Linked DNA regions of Homo sapiens. The protein of the gene in region 2 purifies or fractionates together with the protein of the main gene of each other region. This does not show direct contact. Each region holds a gene or a part of one and is shown on either strand. Other genes may lie near its edges. The genes, in order: WDR1 and UAP1L1.

What was found.
Region 1: the proteins of UAP1L1 (region 2) and WDR1 fractionate together in Homo sapiens (co-fractionation; one large-scale study listed by BioGRID). This does not show direct contact.

What each region holds. Positions count from the first base shown.
Region 1 is NC_000004.12:10,085,770-10,089,568, reverse strand, and holds part of WDR1 (WD repeat-containing protein 1), read left to right. Parts: intron 1-827; coding exon 828-905; intron 906-1,036; coding exon of another isoform or gene 1,037-1,195; coding exon 1,196-1,276; intron 1,277-1,628; coding exon 1,629-1,862; intron 1,863-3,799.
Region 2 is NC_000009.12:137,075,846-137,080,367, reverse strand, and holds the start of UAP1L1 (UDP-N-acetylhexosamine pyrophosphorylase-like protein 1), read right to left. Parts: upstream 2,852-4,522; 5' UTR 2,836-2,851; coding exon 2,547-2,835; coding exon of another isoform or gene 2,319-2,546; coding exon 2,114-2,318; exon of another isoform or gene 2,082-2,113; intron 1,867-2,081; coding exon 1,691-1,866; intron 1,393-1,690; coding exon 1,220-1,392; intron 1,113-1,219; coding exon 919-1,112; intron 367-918; coding exon 226-366; intron 1-225.

The DNA.
Region 1 (3,799 bases), on a different chromosome or scaffold from region 2:
CAGTCTCTGATACAAACTCTTGTTGACTGCGGAAAGAATGCATTCATTTCCTTATTCGAGTAACAGAGTCGCCCCTGGAAGTCATGTCATTTCCTTTTAGTCGCTCAGGCTCTTGTTCTTGATGAAGGTCATAATCATTAACTTTGTTTAAAAGTTAATTATTGGCCAGGCGCAGTGACTTACTCCTGTAATCCCAGCACTTTGGGAGGCCAAAGCGGGGAAACATGAGGTCAGGATACTGAGACCATCCTGGCTAACAAAGGGAAACCCCATCTCTACTAAAAATACAGAAATTAGCCAGGCGTGGTGGCGGGCACCTGTCGTCCCAGCTACTCGGGAGGCTGAGGCAGGAGAATGGCGTGAACCCGGGAGGCGGAGCTTGTAGTGAGCAGAGATTGTGCCACTGCACTCCAGCCTGGGCAACAGAGCCAGACAGGGCTGGTGCCTCCAGGAAGAGGCCTCCTGGTCTCAGCCATCGTGAAGCTTAAGGATTGGGGCTTGAGCTCTTTCAGAGCCCAGAGGGAAGAGGGCAGCTGCTGGGGGCACCTCACTGGGGGGGGCATAACTGGAGGTGGTCTGCCTTCGCTCGGGCTAATCAGCTTTCCCAGCAGGTAGAGCGGTCAGCATGGCAGGCAGGCTGGAGCAGACTCCTGCCCCTCCACTAAGGGACTGCCCAGGATGTTTTTTTAAGCTCTGAAATTTTCCAGTGGACTAACAGTTCACACTGATGAACAGCTGGAGCTGCAAGCTGTGTTTCATAGAGAGCATTCTTGAACCTAGAGTCAGGCCTGCGGCCCCTCATCAGGCAGGTAATTGTTTTCCTGCAGGACCACAGCCGCTTTGTCAACTGTGTGCGATTCTCTCCTGATGGGAACAGATTTGCCACAGCCAGTGCTGACGGCCAGGTAAGAACTGGGATGGGTTTTGGGGTGGGGAATGGCTTGTCTGCCTGCTCCCGTGACTGCTCAGAGCCGCAGGCTGCCTAATGCTAGTCCTGACATGCAGAACTTAGACATCGCCCTCCCCACATCTGCAGACTCGTCGTCAGAGCCCAGTAAATGCATGTCTGCTTTTAAACCACACTGGGAGCTTAGTCTGTGAGCCCCGGTTTTCTACAGCCACAGTCCATGGAGAAACTGCTTACTCCAGAGGGTGTTCACACACACATGACCCACATGTTTTTATTTCTTGGAAGATATACATCTATGACGGGAAGACTGGGGAGAAGGTGTGCGCGCTGGGCGGAAGCAAGGCCCACGACGGTGGGATTTACGCAGTGAGTATGAGCGTGTTTCCCGGCCTAGTGGTGGGAATTTGGCCGAGTCCACGTGTCAGTCCATCCACACTCACTCCGGAGTTAGACAAAAACTTGAAATGAGGGGCTATAAGTCGGGGCGGTTTTATATCTGCCCAGAAAAGCTTTAAGGTCGCAATAAGGTGATGGGAGAAGGTAGTGGCTGGAACGGGAGACCTGGAGGCGGGTGTTGTCCTTGGCCTCACTCATGTCCCACCCTCTCTCTGGGCTCCTTCTGTCCTACTCAAACAGTCGCAGTGGACAAGCTGCTTTTTGGGGTCTCTCTCCAGTCTGTAGTCCTCTGGCACATGACACACTGCTTTTTTCTGAATAGATTAGTTGGAGTCCCGACAGCACCCATTTGCTTTCTGCTTCTGGGGACAAAACTTCCAAGATTTGGGACGTCAGCGTGAACTCCGTGGTCAGCACATTTCCCATGGGCTCCACGGTTCTGGACCAGCAGCTGGGCTGCCTATGGCAGAAGGACCACCTGCTCAGTGTCTCCCTGTCCGGGTACATCAACTATCTGGACAGAAACAACCCCAGCAAGCCCCTGCACGTCATCAAGGTAAGGCCTGCCCTGGGGAAGGCTCTGCCCGCTGGGTGGACAGGGAAGAGACCAGAGTGGCCAGCAAGGAAGGGGAACCGAGGGGAAGCCAGGTGGAAGCTAGAGAGGTGTCCTCAGGCCTCCTTGGCCCTTGGGGTTTTGGTGGAAGGCTGGGATGCTGGTTGCTTTCTTGGGACATGAGTTTAGCCATGGTGGCAGGCCAGGTGCCAAGTTCCCCTTGAGCTACTGTGAGAACTGGAGAGTCAGGGCCTAGTGATTCGGGGCAGTGGCCATCACCCCCAGCTGTTGAGAGCGGTTACTTCCTGCAGGGCTCTGCCTTCCCTGAATTGGGAGTGCACAGCCTGTGCTTTACCCGACTGCAGGCAAGAGCAGAAGCTCACTGAGCACCAGGGCAGGTGACGGGGCATCGCTGAGGTCCAGGGGCAGGAGGGAGGAGCAAGAGCAGGTGGCCTTGGGCCTGGGCCTTGGCGCTGCCTGGAGTTTGAATGTGGTGGGCAGGGTGTGAAGGAGATACTGGAGTTCCATAAGGGAGCGATGGGAGCAGGAGGAAACGGAGTTAGAATCATCCATGGGTCCCAGGTGTGAAGGCCCCAAATGCCAACCTGGGGAGGAGCAAGGTGCCTGCTTCTGAACCCTAACCCGGAAGGGTTCACTTGAGCCAAAGGCTCCCTGTGTTCCATTGGCTGGGGGGGTCCTGCCTTCTCCCTCCACCCACACCAGCCAAGTTGACGCCTCTGGGAATCTCGCAGCTGGACAGGAGCCAGAGCAGGGGTCCCTTCTGTATCCTCAGGTCCTCCTCTCACAGCAGCGCCCTCGCCTGCTTCCCACACTGCATCTGCTGGGAACTCCAAGTCAGGTTCCCCCAGCGCTGGTGGCCCAGGGTGGGTGACCCCTCCTGCTATTCTAAGCTGTAATATCAAGGCAGGTGGACAATGCACTTCATCCCAGCAGCCCTTCTCGGGCTCCTGCTTTAAGCCACTCGGGGAGACAAACCCTAGCACTTCCCTCACCCATTGCATCCTGCTGCCGTGGAGCTCTGGGGGACCAGCCTCTGCAGAGGGTCTGAACCCTGCAGGGCTAGTGTGGGCCAGCCTGGAGCAGCCCCCGGGCCTGTGCACTCGGCCCGTGCTGTGCTGTCAGTGGCTCCTTCACACCACGGCTTCTAGGAGGGGCTGCTAGAATCACCAAATCCATTCTACATGGGAGTTTGCCCACGAGGAAGGGGCCTCGTTAACGTTGTGTGTGTGACTCCTACGGACCAGGTCACCTCAACGCTCATGCATAGAGTCACGGTTCCTTTGTGCCGGGGCAGTGGGGGCAGCAGCACTGCTGAGAGGGGGAAGGCTGAACCATAAAGGTTCACTAGACGTGGCCTCGAGGATAGAGGGGAATCGGGAGCGCCTCCTTGCTGGGCTCACAGCCCAGGGTGATGAGTATAAAAAGGAAGGCACGCACAGCATGGGGCCGAGGAGGTTGTTGCCTGGGGGAGCTGAGGGCTCTTGTCGAGACCATGCTCCAGTGGGCCTCCAAGTGGGATGGTGAGAAATTGTACACGGGTGAGTAAGGCTTCGCTACTGCCCAGAAAAACAGTTTCCCATGAGCCATCCCCGACAGTGTTCTCCAGGTGTCAGCCCTCAGGTCTGCCGTCCCGTTTCTGTTGGCAGGGCTGCCCTGAGAGTGCTCTTCCTAATACCACTGCTGCCAACTGTCTGGGGCCAGTGCACCCGGCCTGCCACCGTGGCTAAACTTATGTCCCAAAAAAGCAACCAGCATCCCACCCTTCCACCAAAACCCCAAGGGCCAGTTGTCAAAACCCCCATGTCCCAACTCTCAAATGCCACACCTGTGTGAGTCACGCAGATGCTGATGTTCGGTGCTGATCTGGGCTGCAGTGGGATGGAGCAGCAGGTATCAGCCCAGGCTGCGTGTTAGAACCA
Region 2 (4,522 bases):
GCACTACTGTCCTCCCAAGTCCACAGCCCCAAGGACTCCCTATGCCCCCACCTCAGGGGCTGCTTACCCTCAGGGCCAAGAGCACCCTCTGGTCTTCTCCCTGAGACTTGCCCGCGGGGCCCTTGGCTCCCTCAAGCCTCTACTTCCCTACCAGCTGCGCCTCAGTTCCCACCACCAAAACTGAGAGAAGGAAGAAGGGGAAAATAAATGAGTTCTACTACTAACTTAGCAAACCGGAACACATCAAACACAAACTTCTCCATCTTTATCCCGTTCGGTTTTAGCGGCTTTACCAGATTCCCCTCCTCATCCACATACGGGACCTTCTTCACAGCCACGTGTGGCTTCAGCAAAGGCTCAAACTCCCTGGGGCACGGGAGAGCAGAGGGGAGGAAAGAAACAGATCAGATATGGCACCGCTGGGGGCTCTGTCCCCACTTCTGAGCACACCCAGCTGGGTGGGACAGGATGGCAGAAGGACACTACAGGGCACAGAAGCGGCAGAGTAGGGCCAGATCTCCAGGGAGAAGCAGGCACAGGCCTCCTCCCTGCATCCCTGTGCCAAGTGCCAGGCACCATCAGCCACATCCCTGCCCAGGCAAACAAACTGGCAAGCCCCAGAGCAGAGGTAGCACCCTGGGCACCAGGGCAGGTCCCCAGAAGGAGGAGATGGCAGACTTGATCACAGAGCCTTACAGCAGCTGCCTGCTGAGCACGGCTTGTGCCTGATCTCCAGCACCTCTGCCTTTGCAAGCTCAGGATCCATTCTCCACCCCGACCCATCAGCCGTGCCTGACCACAGCCACTCCTGACCACAGCCGCTGTGGCCCAGGGCACTCAGCTCACTGGGACCCCGCGGGTCCCTGGTCAACGCAGGCGGCTCTGGCCGGCAATCCGCAGCCACCTGCTGCCGCACACCTGGTGACCGCCTTAAGGAAGCCTCGGGTGAAGAAGTGGTTGCAGATGTTGCCTGCATTGTACAGCAGGCTCCCGTCGGAGGCACGTAGCTGTGCGGTCTCAGGACTGATCTCGCTGTACTCCACCACCTGGGGGACACCGTCCACCTGGCACACCACGCCCACGGGCTCCTCGGGGTATGCCTTTTCCACCACCTGCAGCCAAGACCAGGGATGGGTTCCGAGGGCTGGGCGGAGGGGCGGGGCTCCGTGAGGGGCGGGGCCAGCCTCGGGTGCGGGGCGCCGCGCAGTCGGGCGCTAACCTTGGCGCCACAGTCTGCGCCCTGCAACACACAGAAGCCGATGAAGACAGGGTCCGCCAGCCGCACCAGGATGTTGTCCACACAGTACACGTGCACAAACTCCACTCCCCGGCGCTCCATGTCCTCCAGGATCTTGTGGTCCTCCAGCGCGCAGTAGAGGCCCCCGTTGCCGTCTGCAGACGGAGAAGGGAATGGGCATCGCGAGGGCTCCCGCCAGGGATCGCTCTGGGAGTCTAGGACGTGCTGGAGGCGGGGGAAGCCCCGGCCTTGTGCCTAAGGCAGCCCTGGTCACTAACCAGACAGCCCAGTTGGTGTACCATGTGACAAATGACGATCAAGGCCCAGAAAAAGAGGCGCCTAACCCAGGACCACACAGCCTCGGGGCAGCCGCGAACCCGGGCGCGTGGACCCCCAACTACGCTCCCAGTTCTAGTCTGGGCGGTCCCTCCCCGTCTCAGGAACGGGCCACACCTGGGGCCATGGCAACTTTGTCTTTCCGCTCCAGGATAACCTTGCCATCAAAGGTCACAGCAGGCAGCAGGCGCTGCTCAAACATGACCACGTTGGCGGGGTCCAGGTGGAAGAAGTTGTGCTCCCTGAAGAACTCGGCCGTGGGCCCCAGAGTGAACTCGCTGGTCATGACGTACCTGCAAGGGAGGCGCGGTGAGCCGGCCGCGAGTACGCCTGGCCCTGCAGGCAGACGGGGCTCGGACCAGAGCCGGCATCGGGGTTCGGGGTCCAGTGTCCAGTTGGGGCTGGGGCCAGGCCCCATTTTGGGCCGGTTCTGGGCAATGTCCCGGTCTGTGCCGGGGTTGGGGCTCGCGTCTGGAGCGGGGATGTGGGGGGGCGTGGGGAAGGGTACCTCCGGGCCGAGGTAGGGCAGGCAGGACACACCAGGGGACGGTGCAGCGGGTCCCGTGGCGCTCACCGGCCAGCTGCTCCACCCGCCGAATCCGCTCCGCCTGCAGCTGGTACAGGGTCTTCCGGCTGGGCAGCCCCACACGGTACATACCCTTGGGGTAGGTCACGCCCAGGCGAGTGCCCTGCCCCCCAGCCAGCAGCAGGACGGCCACCTTGTTCAGAGAAATCTGACGGAAACCTGGGGGTACGGGCGCCGTGAAGGGACGCCCGGGACCCGCCCACCCTTCCGCTTTAGGGGAAACCAACTCTGGGGCTGGGGCGCCAGGACTCGGGGGCCGGAACGCGTGAGGCGAGACACGTCTCAAAGTAGCGAGGAGAACTACAGTTCCCCGAGCGCGGCCTCGGTTCCCACCCGCTCCGTGGGCACGACCCCCTGCCGGCCCCCAGGGCCTCCCACCCCGCTTACCTTCCTCCTCCCAGCGCCGCCGTGTCTCGGGGTCGCTGCGGCTGGCCCTGCCCACGCGCTCTGGGGGCAGGGGCCGCAGGCGCGCGGCCAAGTCGGGCGGCGGGCCGTGGGGGCGCGCGCAGGCCTCCGCCGCCCGCCGGCAGTGCTCGCGCAGCGCCTCGGGCTCCAGCAGCGCCAGCTCCGCCAGCAGCGCGGCTCGTGGCTCCGGCGCCAGCTCGGCCCAGAAGCGCAGGAGGTGCTCCTGGCCAGCGCGCTGCAGCCGGGCGCGCACGTCCTGCTCCGAAGCCATGTCGCCGCTGCCGTCTGTCAAGTCGGCACTCGTGACCCGCGCCACTGACCAGCGTCACGAGACCGGGCGGGCGGTGTAGACCCCCCAGTGGGGCGGGCCCCGGGCGCCCCGCCCCGCCCCGCCCCGCCCCGCCCCATCCCGCCCGGTCCCGCGCCCTGCCCTGGAGCCCGCCCACCCCCGCTGCGCACCCCAGACTCTGTCCGGGTTCTCTCTGACCCCGCCCTGTCTACATCCCCCCAGCCCCCCCGCGTCCGGTCCGAGACTCGAGACAGGGCCCAGCCCCATCTCTCCAGCCTGTCCCCCGTCCCTCTCCGTCCCCTGGACCCGCTCCGGTGTCTGGCCCTGGCCTGCTCCCTCGAGCTCCCGTCCCCGTTCCTGCTCTTCTCCAGGCCCCGGGCCCATGCCCGCCCTGTCCACTCCGCGCCCCGCCCCGAGAGATCCCAGGACCCTCTGGGTCGCGCCAGCTGGCGTGGGCAGAGGAATCGACCATTGAGCTAAGGGAGGAAGAGGCCCCAGGGACGCCCCGCAGGGGAAAGCTAGGTTCTGTCCCAGCACGGGCTTTGAACCTGAGAGTGGCATGGCCACCTTTGCGCTAACCAAGACTTGGACGGAGACCTCCTGGTGCAGAGACAACCGGCCAGAGTGCATTGAAGAGGCCTGGGCTACGGCTGAGCTGTTGGGAGGCTGGAACCAGACCAGGTTCCGGGATGCCATCCCGCGGCTTGGGGCTCCCTCCCGCACACCCTTCCTGCTTCCCATTGCCTGGTGACCAGAGCGCTCTGCAGCCCCTCGCCCACATTGTTATTTTACTATCAGGTTTTAAAATATCTTGCTTGTGGTCGGCGCGGTGGCTCAAGCCTGTAATCCCAGCACTTTGGGAGTCCTAAGTGGGGTCAGGAATTCGAGACCAGCCTGGCCAACATGGTGAAACCCCGTCTCTAATAAAAATAGAAAAATTAGCCGGGTGTGGTGGCAGGCGCCTGTAGTCCCAGCTACTCGGGAGGCTGAGGCAGGAGGCCTTGAACTCAGGAGGCGGAGGTTTCAGTGAGCCGAGATCCTGCTGCTGCACTCCAGCCTGGGAGACAGAGTGAGACTTCTCAATAAAAATAAAAATAAAATAGTTTGCTTGTGAAAAATATGAAAGGGTAGCTTCTGCCAGTTGGGCACAAAACTTTCTCCTAGAAACTATATAGTAAGTCTAAAAGTAATATATGTGACTGCATAAAAGAATTCAAATGGTGGCCAGGTGCAGTGGCTCATGCCTGTAATCCTAACACCTTGGGATACCGAGACAGGATGATCGCTTGAGCCCAGGAGTTCAAGACCAGCTTGGGCAACATGGTGAAACCCCGTCTCCACTAAAAATACAAAAATCAGCCAGGTGTGGTGGCGTGTACCTGTAGTCCCAGCTACTTGGGAGGATGAGGCACGAGAATCACTTGAACCCGGGAGGCGGAGGTTACAGTGAGCCAAGATCGCACCACTGCACTCCAGCCTGGGTGACAGAGCGAAACTCTGTCTCAAAAAAAAAAAAAAAAAAAAAACCGGGCGCAGTGGCTCACTTCTGTAATCCCAGCACTTTGGGAGGCCAAGGCGGGCGGATCACCTGAGGTCTGGGGTTTGAGACCAGCCTGACTAACATGGAGAAACCCTGTCTCTACTAAAAATAGATACAAATATTAAATAT